Linked DNA regions of Homo sapiens. The main gene of each other region encodes a partner of the protein of the gene in region 2 in a complex. Each region holds a gene or a part of one and is shown on either strand. Other genes may lie near its edges.

The links.
Region 1: the proteins of FLT3LG (region 2) and FLT3 are in contact, whole or in part, in a crystal structure (PDB 7QDP), measured with the Homo sapiens proteins. Residues at the interface, in NP_001191431.1 of Homo sapiens: His34, Ser35, Pro36, Ile37, Ser38, Ser39, Asp40, Lys44, Lys87, Glu99, Asn102, Thr103, Glu104, His106, Phe107; in NP_004110.2 of Homo sapiens: Asp180, His279, Gly280, Phe281, Gly282, Met300, Ser301, Thr302, Tyr303, Asn306, Arg307, Met309, Arg311, Ser333.

What each region holds. Positions count from the first base shown.
Region 1 is NC_000013.11:28,097,509-28,105,029, forward strand, and holds the start of FLT3 (receptor-type tyrosine-protein kinase FLT3 precursor), read right to left. Parts: upstream 3,069-7,521; 5' UTR 3,003-3,068; coding exon 2,960-3,002; intron 1-2,959. UniProt on the Homo sapiens protein: Tyrosine-protein kinase that acts as a cell-surface receptor for the cytokine FLT3LG and regulates differentiation, proliferation and survival of hematopoietic progenitor cells and of dendritic cells.
Region 2 is NC_000019.10:49,469,904-49,477,297, reverse strand, and holds the start of FLT3LG (fms-related tyrosine kinase 3 ligand isoform 1 precursor), read right to left. Parts: upstream 3,084-7,394; 5' UTR 3,017-3,083; intron 2,936-3,016; exon of another isoform or gene 2,847-2,935; intron 2,713-2,846; exon of another isoform or gene 2,696-2,712; 5' UTR 2,659-2,695; coding exon 2,626-2,658; intron 1,625-2,625; exon of another isoform or gene 1,608-1,624; coding exon 1,497-1,607; intron 1,182-1,496; exon of another isoform or gene 1,154-1,181; coding exon 1,100-1,153; intron 876-1,099; coding exon 732-875; intron 1-731. Other genes in the region: ALDH16A1 (aldehyde dehydrogenase family 16 member A1), read right to left, coding at 6,831-6,992. UniProt on the Homo sapiens protein: Stimulates the proliferation of early hematopoietic cells by activating FLT3. Synergizes well with a number of other colony stimulating factors and interleukins. Required for the development of B cells, and dendritic cells (DCs).

The DNA.
Region 1 (7,521 bases), on a different chromosome or scaffold from region 2:
AATCCATTTTTAATGTAAGGCAAGAAGTTCACAATTAAACCTAAGAGGATAATTTACTATAGATAGACGTGAAGTACCTAAAAAGAAATGAATATCCAATCTACACCTATATAATGGCAAAAATTAGAACTAGAGTTTCAGAGTCAGAGGGGACATTAATGTCAGGTCGGCAGGTCTGGGCTCACATCCAATCCAAACCAAGCTTTGCTGAGTGTCCCTTCCCTCCACTTTCTCCTGAATCATTCCCCCTTGGGCTAGGAGTTTCCAAGAAGGCAAATAAACTAAGATAAGCAACAAGAGCAAAGAATGGCAACTCAAATGTGCAGTTCAAGGCTTTGAATACGAATTTTTTTTAACACTAATGAAAAAGGTAGTATCATAGCTCTTAAAATATTGAAATACTTCTCTCTGTCCAGTATCAGCAGATAATGCAGAAAAGCCCATTGGGAACATGTTCCTCTCCTTCAAATGCCACTTAGAAAGCTTCATCATTATTCATAAATGATGAATAGAAGTCTGGGCATGGCCGGGTGTGGTGGCTCATACCTGTAATCCCAGCGCTTTGGGAGGCTGAGGTGGGTGGATCGCCTAAGGTCAGGAGTTCGAGACCAGCCTGGCCAACATGGTGAAACCTCGTCTCTACTAAAAATACAAAAATTAGCTGGGTGCGGTGGCACGCACCTGTAATCCCAGCTACTCAGGAGGCTGAGGCAGGAGAATCGCTTGAACCTGGGAGGCGGAGGTTGCAGTGAGCTGAGATCGCGCCACTACACTCCAGCCTGGGTGACAGAGCAAGACTCCGTCTCAAAAAAAAAAAAAAAAAAAAAAGTAGTGTTTACAATATAAGGGAAATTGGGATCCCATGTTCTAATTCAAAGAATTTAAGGCTATTAACCATTTTAAAGTTCTCATGTTTAAGCTTCTCACTTTATCCTTCTTTATTCAAGAAAATCCATAATACAAAGTATTGGCAAAGATGTGAGGAACTGGAACTGCCATACACTGCTAGTGGGAGTGGAAATTGGTGTAACCACTGTGGAAAACCGTTTGACGGTATCTACCAAACCTGAACATATCCCTTCCCTATGATCCAGGAATTCTACTTGTGGGCATAATCCTTTATACTGGTGTTTATGTCCACCATATATAAAACAATGTTCACAGCAGTGCTATGCATAATTACACAAAATTGGAACAACTTCCATGTGCTTCGTGAACATAATGGATAAAATAAATTATAAGATCTATTCATACCACGGAATGGTACCAGCAATTAAAAAAAAAAACACTGCTACAGAGAACAAGGTTGAATCTTATTATTATAATGTTGAGTAAAAGAAGGTGGACATAAAAGAGCACACGATGATGGTTTGGTTTACATGAAGTTCAAACATAGGCAAAAGCAATCCATGGCATCAGAAGTCAGAATAGTGGCTACCTGGGGAGGGGGTACTGACAGAGAGGGTGGAGCTAGAATTGCTCTATATCTCAGTCTGATCGTGGTTATTTGGGCACGTACATATGTGAAAACTAATGAAATTGTACTCTTAAGATGTGTGCATATTTACTGTGTGCCAATTATACTTCATTTAGAAATATCTGGAGAGAGAGACATAGAAATTTCTGAATTCTTTCCTAAATAGAAAAGAATTCCATGCAGCTTAAATATCGTTGCAAGTATTGATGCTTATACCTTTAGAAAGCCCATTATGCTTCTGAAAAATGCACTTACTACTTAATATCATACATAATAGAAAGCTAACATTTTGTATTAACGGAATCTGGAAAACATATTGTACTACACATTTGAAATTACAGATTTACTAACTAGTAAAGATAACTATTTAAGAACTAAAATGTCTTTGTTTTTCAACTCTTTTCCCCCGATTTCCATTTTTTACTTTTTATATTTCAGAATTATTTGTAACAAAAGCTATTGGATATAATTCCTGCACTTCTATATTGCAAGCATTTTCTCTATTTACCACAGAGACTTCAAGTCCTAGCATTTCAGAGCTGAAGGGGACTCGGACGGACTCCCTCACTGCACAGATGAGGACGCGGAGGCCGGGGGAGGTGAGTGTCAGTCCCAAGGTTGCAGACCTAGGACAGGGACCGGAGCTGCCGGGCACCCAGAACTCTGTCGCCTTCAACCCAAATTCGATTCAGTCCTCTCATCTTTCCAAATAGAAAGCTGACGCGAACCGATGGGAAGATTTTTTTTTTCAATAACAACTATGCTACCCAGCAGATTCTTTGGGGACAGTCCTCGGAGTCCTTGAAAACCCCTTTGGGGTTTATGCCAGGATAAGAAGAGACTAGAAGAAAGGGACAGCTAGTATTTTAATATGTAAATCTGTTTGCATAATATTTCCTAGGTAAACTATTCGTTGATCCAACCAAAATTCGGCGGGGCTGGGGGGTATCGTTATTGAGGATGACTCGCTCTAGGGGAGAACGCGGACGCATTTTCCCATCAGAGTTCCCTCCATAAATCAAAACCTCAAAAGAAGAGTTAAAGACGACACCCAGGTGTCTACAGTATCCAAGGGCCGGGCCAGGAGAGGTCCTTGGCCACCTGGCGCCGAGTTCGCGGCCGCAGACTCCCACGGACGGCCCAGCACCCGAGCGCGCGGGCCGAGCTGCCCCAGACCCGGCGCAGCGCCTCGGCGAGGCCGTCTGCGAAGTCCGGGCCGCCACTCGGGACCGCGGCCCGAGCCAGAGGAGAGACTTCGGAGAAGAGGGAAGAGGACGCGGGGTGGGAAACGCCGGGGCCGCAGGCAAGTAGTGGGCGAGTCCGGAGGGCGCGAAAGAGGGGAGGGGCGCGGGAGGCAATGGAAGGAGCGAGCGCGGGGAGGAGCGAGGCGGCTGGGCCGGAGGAGGCGCGCGCCCGGGTCCACACTGCGGGGTGGGGGCTGAGGGACCGCGAGGGGCTGCGAGCGAGCGAGCGGGGCCTTACCGAGCAGCGGCAGCTGGCCGCCGTCGCGCGCCAACGCCGGCATGGCCTCCGGAGCCCGGGGTCCCCAGGCCGCGCCGGCCCAGCCCTGCGATGCCGCCTGGAGCGGCGCGCCTCGCGCTGCAGGTGGCTCTCTTAAGGATGCGCGTCACCGACCGCAAATTCCCTCGGACTGGTGCAAAGTGGAAGGGGGGAGGAACCCTCTCCCCAGAGGCAGGGACCGAGGCGGGAGCGGAGAGGTTGGGCAGAGCCGAGCAGCCGGTGCCTGGCGCAGCGCTGCAGCCGAGCCCACGTGCCCGCCGCGGTCCGCAGCCTGTGCTCGGCGGCCCCCGGGGCTCCCCGACTGCGGCGGGGAAGATTGGGCGCGGTCCCGCCGGAGAAGTTGCACTGGCTCCGCGGCTCTGCCGCCTTGCTGCCCCTGTGAGTCCCCGAACTCTGTCGTTTGGATCCGGGGCGTGGGGACTGCAGGGAGCCACAAACCACCCTCCTAGTGCGCTGGGATCTTTGAGGCCCTGAGAAAGGCGCTGAATCCGCTCGGCACGCTGGCAACTCCCGCCAGCGCACAGGCGAGCATTCCATTAAGAACCATTCCATTCTTAATTGTGGACTGATTTCCTTTGTCTCTGCCTCCATCTCCTAGGATGCTCAGGACCCAGTCAGCGGCGGGATCAAGAAAAACAGGCAGGGTTTCAATGTCAACCAAGGCAATTAGGGAGGTTAACAAACAGCCTTCAAAACAAAACACACAGAAAATACATCCCAGAGGATGTTGCGAATCATCCGCTCAATAGTTCTTGTTCTTCATCGCATAATTTTTCGAGTTGAAAATTATTATTATTTTCTTTGCAATAAGTTGAGGATTGGAAAGCTCTGGATGCCAGTTCTGGTTCTTCCCTTACTTAACTAGCCGTTTGACCTCCACAAACCTCTGTTTACTCATCGTAAAGGAAAGGGATGGACCAAATGGTTCATAATGTCTCTCCCAATTCTAGGAATTCCACGCTCTTAATTATTTTAATTATTTTCTAATAAAGCATGAAAATTGACTGTTTACTCTTGGCCATACAGTTCTTTTCCTTAGATGTTGTCTACAGTACAATAATTCTTTCCCCTAGGGTATGGCAGAAACTTTAGAAGTGTCTACCATGGTGCAGCCACTATGGAAAACACTATAGAGGTTTCTCAAAAAATTAAAAAAAATACGGTCCAACAATTCCATTTCTGGCCATGTAGCCAAAAGAATTGAAAGCAGGGTCTTGAAGAGATGTCTGTACACCCGTGTTGAAAGCAGCATTATTCACAGTAGTCAAAAGGCAGAAGTAACCCATGTCCACAACAGATGAATGATAAACAAAAATGCAGTATATACATACGACTGAGTATTTTTCAGCTTTAAAGAGGAGGGAAATTCTGATACAGCTAAAATATGGATGAATCTTGACATTATGCTAAGTGAAATAAGCTAGTCCCAAAAAATACAATACTGTATCCCATTACAAATTCATAAAGACAGAAAGTTAAATGGTGGTTACCATGGGCTGGGGGCAGGGGGAAATGGGGAGCCAGTGTTTAATGGATACAGAGTTTCAGTTTTGCAAGATGAGCAGAGTTCTGGAGACTGGTTGCACAACAATGTGAATGTACTTAACGCTACTAAACTGTACACTTAAAAATGGCTAAGGCTGGGTGCGGTGGCTCATGCCTGTAATCCTAGCACTTTGGGAGGCCGAGGTGGGCAGATCACCTGAGGTCAGCAGTTCGAGACCAGCCTAGCCAACATGGTGAAACCCCATCTCTACAAAAATGCAACAATTAGCCAGGCGTAGTGGCGCATGCCTGTAATCCCAGCTACCTGGGAGGTTGAGGCAGGAGAATCACTGGAACCCGGGAGGCAGAGGCTGCAGTGAGCTGAGATCACACCACTGCACTCCAGCCTGGGTGACAGAGTGAGACTCTGTCTCAAAAACAAAAACAAAAACAAAAAGTTAAGATGGTAAATTTTATGTATGTGTATTTTACCTCAATTTTAAATTTTTTAAGTTTTTGTGTAGCTGCTGGGGGTTTAAAAATTTTTTTAAAGAGTGTTGTGTCTACCTTAGGTCAGAAACAGAAGTGAAGGAAGATGGCCTGAAATAAGTGAAACATGAGGAGATAAAGCAATGAAACAGGCTGGTTATGGGGAGAAAAGCGAGCTTCCAATGGCCAAGACCTAACACACTACCTTCTATTTAAAGCTCAATTACTGTCTTAAAGGAAACTGATTGGCTGGGCGCTGTGGCTCATGCCTGCAATCCCAGCGCTTTGGGAGGCCAAAGCGGGTGGATCATTTGAGGTCAGGAGTTGGAGACCAGCCTGACCAACATGGTGAAACCCCATCTCTAACAAAAATACAAAAATTAGCTGGGCATGGTGGCACTGTAGTCGTAGCTACTTGGGAGGCTGAGGCAGGGGAATTGCTTGAACCCAGGAAGCAGATGTTGCAGTGAACTGAGATCATGCCACTGCACTCCAGCCTGGGCAACAGAGCAAGACTTGGTCTTCGCCGGGCGTAGTGGCTCATGCCTGTAATCCCAGCACTTTGGGAAGCTAAGGCAGGTGGATCACGAGGTCAGGAGTTCAAGACCAGCCTGGCAAAGATGGTGAAACCTGTCTCTACTAAAAATACAAAAAATTAGCCAGGCGTGGTGGCATACGCCTGTAATCCCAGCTACTCAGGAGGCTGAGGCAGAGAATTGCTTAAACTTGGGGAGCGGAGGTTGCAGTGAGCCAAGATCGCGCCACTACACTCCAGCCTGGGCGACAGAGGGAGATTCCGTCTCAAAAAAATAAATAAATAAAATGAAAAACTAAAAAAAAAATGAAACTGATTATTACAAATTTGCAGAACATCAGCTTGAGTGCAGCAGTATTCAGGATACAAAATCATAAAGATACTGCTGCTTTGTCCAAGAATCTTGGACACAAGGCAGAGATCTTCATGAAAAAGGGGGTTGGTGAGAGAGGAGAAGTTAGGAATGGTTTCTTTTTTTGAGACAGAGTCTTGCTCTGTCGCCCAGGCTAGAGTGCAGTGGCACGATCTAGGCTCACTACAACCTCCGCCTCCCGGGTTCAAGCGATTCTCCAGCCTCAGCCACCTGAGTAGCTGGGATTACAGGCACCCGCCACTGCGCCCAGCTAATTTTGTATTTTTAGTAGAGAAGGGTTTCACCATCTTGGCCAGGCTGGTCTCAAACTCCTGACCTCGTGATCCACCCTCCTTGGACTCCCAAAGTGCTGGGATTACAGGTGTGAGTCACCGCGGCCAGCCAGGAATGGTTTCTAGGAACACTTGATTTTCCGTGGAAATTGGTGGAAAAAATAATTCTAGAAGGAGCAAATCTTATAGACTGAAATATTTTGGAGTATGAGGTATAGGCTAACAGAAGGTGAAGTAATGCCCATGTTTTTCTGTGATGTGCCAAGAGTCATATCTAATATGAGAACTAATTTCTTCCTCACAGCAACACTTAAGGAAAGTAGCCTGAAATTGTCTAGAGTCCTGGATTACACGCCCAGGTATGCATGCCCAAGTATGAAATTTTGGTGTCAGAGTTCATGATAGGAATTCTGTAATAAAGAAACTCTTAAAGGGTCAAAAGCAACTAGAAGAAATGAGCTGAAACGGGAAATCGGAAAAGAGAAGAGTAAGTTTGTTTCTGGGTTGAATGGAGTGTCTAGTGCTAACTCTACGAAAGGATGTATTTTATCTAGATTCTTAGCACCATGATGCTTAGCCATGAGTAAGTGGTCATCTATCTTACCAGCATCTTGATACCATGTTTCCACCCCTTAAGTCACACAAATATCTCCTCTCCCTTTCCTCTCTCTCTCCAAAAATTGTGACATAGTTTCGTAGCAGCTCACAGGTGAAATACTTTCATGTCATTTTTAACTTACAAAGCCTTATGTTTTCCTGAAAATCAGGGACAAACAAAAGGAATATTTGAATAGGGTTCATGTGAGTTCAGTTGAGATATCAACTTTATAGTATAATTTTACACATCTTTTATTAATAGGGGCTTTGAACTCACCAATTGGCAAAATCTGACAATACAAAGTGTTGACAAGAATTCAGAGCAATGGAGAACACCCACACACTGTTGGTGGACATCCCAATGGGTGTGAGCACTTTGAAAAATAATTTGGCATATCTTACTAAAGTTGAACATATCCTCCAGCCAGCAGTTTCACCCCCAGATATAAACCTCAAAGAAACACATATGTGCCAAGAGACAAGTATAAGAATGTTCATAGCATTATTGTTTATAATATCAAAAAATTGGGAACAATCTAAATGCCCACCAACAAAAGGATAAATTGCAGTACAGTCATAATAAAATACCTATATATTAAATAACAGTGTAAATGAATGAGCTACAGTTACCTGACACACCATGAATGAATCTCAAAAACATAATGTTGAGGGGGAAAAGCAAGTCATGGAATAATAGACATAAAGGCGGAAGCAAACAATATTCTCCTTAGGAATACATTCATAGGGGTATAAGGAAAGTAAAGGAATAATT
Region 2 (7,394 bases):
TAATTTATTTTTATTTTTGTGCAGAGATGAGGTTTCACTGTGTTACCCGGGCTGGTCTTGAACTCCTGGGCTCAAATAATCCTCCCACCTTGGCCTCCGAAAGTGCTGGGATTACAGGTGTGAGCCACTGCACCCAGCCCTCAGAGAGAGGTTTTTGTTTGTTTGTTTTGTTTTTGAGACAGTTTCACTCTGTCTCCCAGGCTGGAGTGCAGTGGCATGATCTCGGCTCACTGCAGCCTCTGGCTCCCGGGTTCAAGCGATTCCTGTGCCTCAGCCTCCTGAGCCACCATGCCCGGCTAATTTTTGTATTTTTAGTACAGCCGGGATTTCATCATGTTGGCCAGGCTGGTCTCAAACTCCTGACCTCAAGTGATCCGCCCACCTCAGCCTCCCAAAGTGCTAGGATTACAGGAGTGAGCCACCACGCCCGGCCTCCTCAGTTTAGAGACCCCTTCTCTCCCTGTTTTTTTTTGGGGGAAGAACCCCTCAGTGGCACCCTTCATCATGGCCTAGGAAACCGGGGCCCCAGAATGGGACCAGACTGCTCCCCATCACCGGTGCCTGGGGACGTGTTGTTCTGTAGGAACAGGGCTCTGCAGGGTGGCGCTTCTCGCTCTACCTTCGTTGGGTGGCTATGGTCCAAATCGCCAATAAGGCCTAGTGGAGCTTTACTTCTAATTCGTAGGAAGGCATCTCCCTCCCCTCACTTGTCCCCTAAGTTGAGGGCTGACCTGAAAGGCACATTTGGTGACAAAGTGTATCTCCGTGTTCACGCGCTCCAGCAAGCCTTGCATCTTGGACCCAGCGACAGTCTTGAGCCGCTCCATCCAGCGCTGTGCCAGGACCAGCCGCCAGAGGCCCCCGCAGAGCTCCTCCTAGAGGGGAGAACCCACGGGTCTGAGGGAGGAGCTGGGCACGGGGCTGCTGGGTCTGAGGGAGGAGGGGCTGGGCCGGGGCTCCTGGGTCTGAGGGAGGAGGGGCTGAGGACTCTGATTCCTGGGTTTGGGGAGGGGAGGGCCTGGTTATCCACTCGCCTCGGTGGAGCATCTTGAGTCTGTGGTCCCCACCTCCATCCCAGGTCCCTCCCAACATGACTTACGTCCTGCAGGTTGGAGGCCACGGTGACTGGGTAATCTTGAAGCAGGTAGTCAGACTGCGGGAGAAAACAGGATCAGGCCTGGCTGAAAACAGCGAGAAACAGAACTGTGGGGACCCAGAGGTGGCAGCAGAGATCCAGAGAGAGAGGGACAAGACCAAGAGAGGGGGAGCCCAGAAGAAGCCACAGAACCTTGCCCTTAAAAAGGGATGACACCCCTAAGCACAGTGGCTCACGCCTGTAATTCCAGCACTTTGGGAGGCCAAGGTGGGAGGATCGCTTGAGCCCAGGAGTTCAAGACCACCCTGGGAAACACAGGGAGAGAGACCCCATCTCTACTTAAAAAAAAAAGTGGGGGGAAGGGGGATCACATGAGGGGGTCCGGGGCAGCGCCGCTCACCAGCTCACGGATTTTGACAGCGAAGTCGGAGGAGATGGGGCTGTGTTGGAAGGAGCAGTCCTGGGTCCCACTGAGTCCCGAGCTCAGCAGCAGCAGCAGGAGGAGATAGGTCTGCAGGGGAGCGGGTGCTGGGGGAGCCCTCTGCTGTTCCACACACAGCCCCCTCCTCCGGGCTTCCCACCTGTACTGTTCTGTCTTCCCCGCTCCTCCTTCCCTGGGTGTCCTTCTGCCTCTTCCACACTTTCTGGAGACATGGCCCCATCTCTGCCTGTCTTTCCCGGTTTCTCTCTGCCTCTGGTCCAATGCTGTCCAGTTTGCATCCCCCTCTGCCCCACCCCTCTCTCTCCCCATCTCCCCCACTCTGCTGGTCTCTCTCCAACCACCTCATCTTCACGTCTGGTTTCCTCGCCCGGGTTCCTCCAGCTCTGTCCCTCCCTCTGCCTTCTACACCACTGTTGCCTGCTTCTCTCTTGATCTTGGTCCACGTCCTCTTCATTTGTTCTTGGCTCTGTCCACCTTCCCTCTCCTCTGTCCATCTCCCCCCTTTTCTGTCCATCTCCCCCTCCTCTGTCCATCTCCCCCCTCCTCTGTCTCTCTTCCTCTCCTCTGTCCGTCTCCCTCCTCCTGTCCACCTCCCCCTCCTCTTCATCTCCCTCTCCTCTGTCCATCTCCCCCTCCTGTCCATCTCCCCTCTCCTCTGTCCATACCCCCTCCTCTCCATCTTCCCTCCTGTCCATCTCCCCCACCTCTGTCCATCTCCCCCTTCTCTGTCCATCTCCCTCCTCCTGTCCACCTCCCTCCTCTTTATCTCCCTCTCCTCTGTTCATCTGCCCTCTCCTCTGTCCATCTCCCCCTCCTCTGTCCATCTCCCCGCTCCTGTCCATCTCCCACTCCTCTCTATCTCCCTCTCCTCTATCTCCCCCTCCTCTGTCCATCTCCCCATCCTCTGTCCATCTCCCCCTCCTCTGTCCGTCTCCTCTCCTATCCATCTCCCCTCACATCTGTCCATCTCCCCTCCTATTTCCTCGTCATCTGTCCATCTGTTCTCCCGTCCATCTCCCCTCATCTCTGCCCCATCCTGACATTGTGCCTCCCCTCTCCCCTGATCTTGTCCCTGGGGTTTACGCACTGTTGGGCTCCAGGCTGGCGCCAGCACTGTCATTTCGGCCGGGGGCCCCTCATGCCTCCTGTCGCCGGGTCTTGGAAGGGACAGAAGAACAAGTCTCGGACCCTCATGCCCCAGCCCCTGCCCTGCCCGCCCCTTTGCCTCCCCGCCCCTCCCGCGTCCCATTGATGTGGCTGAGTTTCCGCCCCTTCCTCCCCCAGGCTTCCTGCGTCTGCCCCAGTTACGGTGAAAACTCTTCATCTCCACTTCTAAGAACCTCGACGTCTGGTCCCCAGAACCCTCCCCAGGTTAGGGACCCGGGAACCCAGCCCCCCACCCTCTGCTCCCCCTGCCCCAGGAGTGGGGACCCTGGCTCCGCCCCTTGGGGACCTAGAGTCCAAGTCTCCTCACGCACCAGGCTTGCCCCAGTTGGGTGTGGAAGGGGCCAAGCCGGGTGACAGCCAGAGACCGAAAGTGAAAGGAAATTTTTGGGGGGAGACAGTCAAGGGGTGGAATCTGGGCCCAGGCGGAGCGCGCCCCCTGGTGGTGAGAGGCGGCCGCTCACGCCGCAGATGGCGCGTTCTCCGGACGCCCCGCAGCGGGGGCTGCAGTGGGGCTGACTCCCTGGGTGGCACGCCCAGTGCATGGTGAGCTGGGGCTGGAACCCGGATCTGTCTCTGGGAACTCGCAGTTGCTGTGTCTTACCGTCCTCCGGGCCCCAACTTTGCCCCGCCAAGGCTTGGCACACAGGACTCAGGATGCATCTTGTCACATTGGGCCTGGCAGGTGTCGCCCTAGCACTAGCTTTATCACTGTGGGAGCTTGGCCAGCCCCTTGACCTCTCTAAGCCTCGGCTTCTCCAACTCCAAACTGAGGGGTGAGGTGGTACATGAGACAAAATAGAAGCTCTCTTCCACATCTGTGGATCTCTGAATCTCTGAAGCATTTTTTTTTTTTAGATGGGGTCTCACTCTGTTGCCCAGGCTGGAGTGCAGTGGCACAGTCTCGGCTCACGGCAACCTCCGCCTCCTGGGCTTAAGCAATTCTTGTGCCTCAGGCTCCCAAGTAGCTGGAATTGCAGGTGCGTGCCACCATGCCCGGCTAATTTTTGTATTTTTAGTAGAGACGAGGTTTCACTATGTTGGCCAGGCTGATCTCGAACTCCTGACCTCAGGTGATCAGCCTGCCTCGGCCTCCCAAAATGCTGGGATTACAGGTGTGACCCATCACGCCCATCCTGAATCTCTTGCTCACCCATCTGATCCGTGGCAGACTGTCCTGAAACATCTGCTGCCCCCACCCCCCCAGCAGGAGGATTCGAGGTCCCATCCTGGGGAACTCGGACATGGCCACACTCACTTTGGCCAGTCACATGAGGGTGGAGGTGACAGGTGTCACTTCTGAATGGAAGTCTAAGGGACCGGGGAGTGGATGGTGGAGGATGCATGGAGAGAGCGCCTCTATCAGCCAAGTTTCCTGTGCCACTCGGAGGAGCACAGGGATCCTGCCAGCCCCGGATGAGCACAGGGAGTGTAAGCAACAAACTAATGTTGTGGTTGTGGCCCACGCAGATTCGGGGGTTATGTGTTACTGCAGCAAAGCCTCGCCCGTCCTGGCCTTCATCATCCATTTCCCTTCCCTGATCCCTCTGCCTGCCTCACTTCCTGTTCAGCCTGGGTTAGCTGCCTTGTCGCACCCAATGGTCAGACCTTCCATCTGGCTAGAAAGATTTAAATGAAGCAGAGAGGCAGAGATACAAGCCCCAATAGCTCATGTGGCCCATGGACAAAGGACCTGCTCTAGCTCCTTCCTGACCAAGTCCTGGGGCCCCTCAATGTGTGTCCTGCCCTATCGCCCTATTGCCTCTAGGGAATCTCTGTAGCCTTCCAGAAGACTCCTCTCTCTCTCTCTTTTTTTTTTGAGACCGAGTCTCGCTGTGTTGCCCAGGCTGGAGTGCAGTGGCACGATCTTGGCTCACTGCAAGCTCCCCCTCTGCCTCCCAGGTTCAAGCAATTCTCCTGCCTCCCAGATAGCTGGGATTTCAGGTGCCGCCACCACGCCTGGCTAATTTTTATAATTTTAGTAGAGACGGGATTTCACCATGGTGCCCAGGCTGGTCTCAAACTTCTGACAAGTGATCCACCCACCTCGGCCTCCCAAAGTGCTGGGATTACAGGTGTGAACTGCCACACCTAGTCCGGAAAACTCTCATTTTTTTTTTCTTTGAGATGGAGCCTTGCTCTGTTGCCCAGACTAGAGTGAAGTGTGTGCTCTCAGCTCACTGCAACCTCTGCCTCCTGGGTTCGAGTGATTCTTCTGCCTCAGCCTCCTGAGTAATTGGGATTACAGGTGCCCGCCACCACACCCAGCTAATTTTTGTATTTTTAGTACAGACAGGGTTTCACTGTGTTGGCCAGGCTGCTCTCAAACTCCTGACCTCAGGTGATCCGCCTACTTCGGCCTCCCAAAGTGTTGGGATTACAGGCCTGAGTCACCGAGCCTGGCCTCTGAAAACTCCCTTTTATCCTAAACTAGTAAGAGTGGGTTTCTTACATCAAAAAGAATTCTACTTCAGGTGTGGTGGCTGATGCCTGCAGTCCCACACTTTGAAAGGCTGAGGCGAGAGGATCGCTTGAGGCCAGGAGTTCAAGACCAGCCTGAGCAACGTAGGTAGACTCTGCCTATTAAAAAAAAAAAAATTAGCCAGGCATGGTGGTGCGTGCCTGTGGTCCCAGCTGCTCAGGAGGCTGAGGTGGGAGGATTTTTTTTTTTTTTTTTTGAGACGGAGTCTCACTCTTTCGCCCAGGCTGGAGTGCAGTGGCTCGATCTCGGCTCACTGCAAGCTCCACCTCCCGGGTTCACGCCATTCTTCTGCCTCAGCCTCCCAAGTAGCTGGGACTACAGGCGCCCGCCACCATGCCCAGCTAATTTTTTTGTATTTTTAGTAGAGACGGGGTTTCACCGTGTTAGCCAGGATGGTCTTGATCTCCTGACCTCATGATCCACCTGCCTCGGCCTCCCAAAGTGCTGGGATTATAGGCGTGAGCCACCACGCCCGGCCGAGGTGGGAGGATTGAGCCCAGGTCGAGGGTGGGTTCAGTAAGCTGTGACTGCGCCACTGTATTACAGCCTAAAAAACAGAGCAAGATCCTTTATTTAAAAATCAACAGTCGTGCGCAGTGGCTTAAGTCTGTAATCTTAGCACTTTGGGGAGACCAAGACAGGCGGACCGCTTGAGGTCAGGAGTTTGAAACCAGCCAGGCCAAGATGGTGAAACCCCGTCTGTACTAAAAATACAAAAAATTATCTGGGTGTGGTGGCGCGAGCCTGTAATTCTAGCTACTCTGGAGGCCGAGGCAGGAGAATCGCTCGAACCTGGGAGGCGGAGGTTGCAGTGAGCCGAGATCACCCCGCTGCACTCCAGCCTGGCCGACAGAGAGACTCTGTCTCGAAAAAACAAAAAACAAACCAAAAAAACCCACCCACAACCAGAATCCTAAGGCAGTGGTGTGCTGAAGCGGCTCGTATTGGCTCATGGGAGCTGACCTGTTAACAATTCAGGATCTCGCAGGCAGTTGTTTAATCACCTGTACCTTGAAATCCGGCACGGTGGGAGCATTTACATCATGGAAATTGACAAAAGTCATATAGGAGGACTTTAATTTTATTCCAGAGAGTTCCTTTACTGCATATGGATTCTGGGGCCATGAAAAGGTAGAGAAAACCAGAGAGCAAGAGCCACCAGATGGAGAAGACAAGAAGATATGAGAGTCCTAAGGCCCTGTCTGGGGTCCTCGGGGGTCCCCTTTCTCTGTTTCACAAACACAGCACCGTGCTGGAGCCGGCTCCTGAGCTGCTCAACCTCAGAACTAAAATGGCCTCGAGCCAGGTGTGGTGGTGCATGTCTGTGGCCCCAGCTACATATGAGGCTGAGGCATGAGGATCCCTTGAGCCCCAGAGGTCGAGGCTGCAGTGGGCCGAGATTGTGCCACTGCGCTCCAGCCTGGGTGACAGAGCCAGACGTTGTCTCAAAAAAAAAAAAAAAAAAGAAAAAAGCCTCATATCTGCCAGAAGTTGCTACACCCTTTCTTCTCGCAGAAGCACAGCTAGGGTTGGTCAGAGAGTTTATTGGGAGACACAGGAACCAGAAGGGGAAAGTCCCAGGTGTCTGTGGGGTGCATCTCCCCTTGGTGTGAGGTGTCCAAAATGCAGTAGGTGGCGCTCAGGCATCAGTCCCCCATAGGCAGCCACAGGGCCTTGGTCCGCGCCACTCGCAGCCCCAGCTCTGGGCCTGCCCCCTCGGCCTCCTGGTCCCAGGCCCGCGGGCAGCCCCTGCTCGCCCACACCGGTTTGAGGTTTCCTGCCGAGGCCCACTCGACAAACTGGGAACCCTGAGGGGAGGAAGAGACGGGGGTAAGCACTTCTGCAGGCTTGTTGCTGAGCACCTGCTTCCTCCGCGATGAAGACTGTTACTGACGAGGGGCTTCAGGCTGGACCCAGGCTCTGCAGCTACAATGCCCAGCTCCTCCCAAGCAGAACTTCCAGATGGTAGGGAAAAGCACTGGACCCAGTGGTTAGGGAATTTCCTCTCCCTTAACAGCCCATGTTGAAAGGAATGGGCCCCAAGGCTCTTGTCAACAAGTTCACATCTGTTACCAACAGGAGGTTTAAGAGAGTGGACGGTGGGGCGCGGTGACTCGCTCCTGTAATCCCAGCACTTGGGGTGGCTGAGGCGGGAGGATCGCTTGAGTTCAGGAGTTTGAGACCAGCCTGGACAATATGGCGAGACCCCG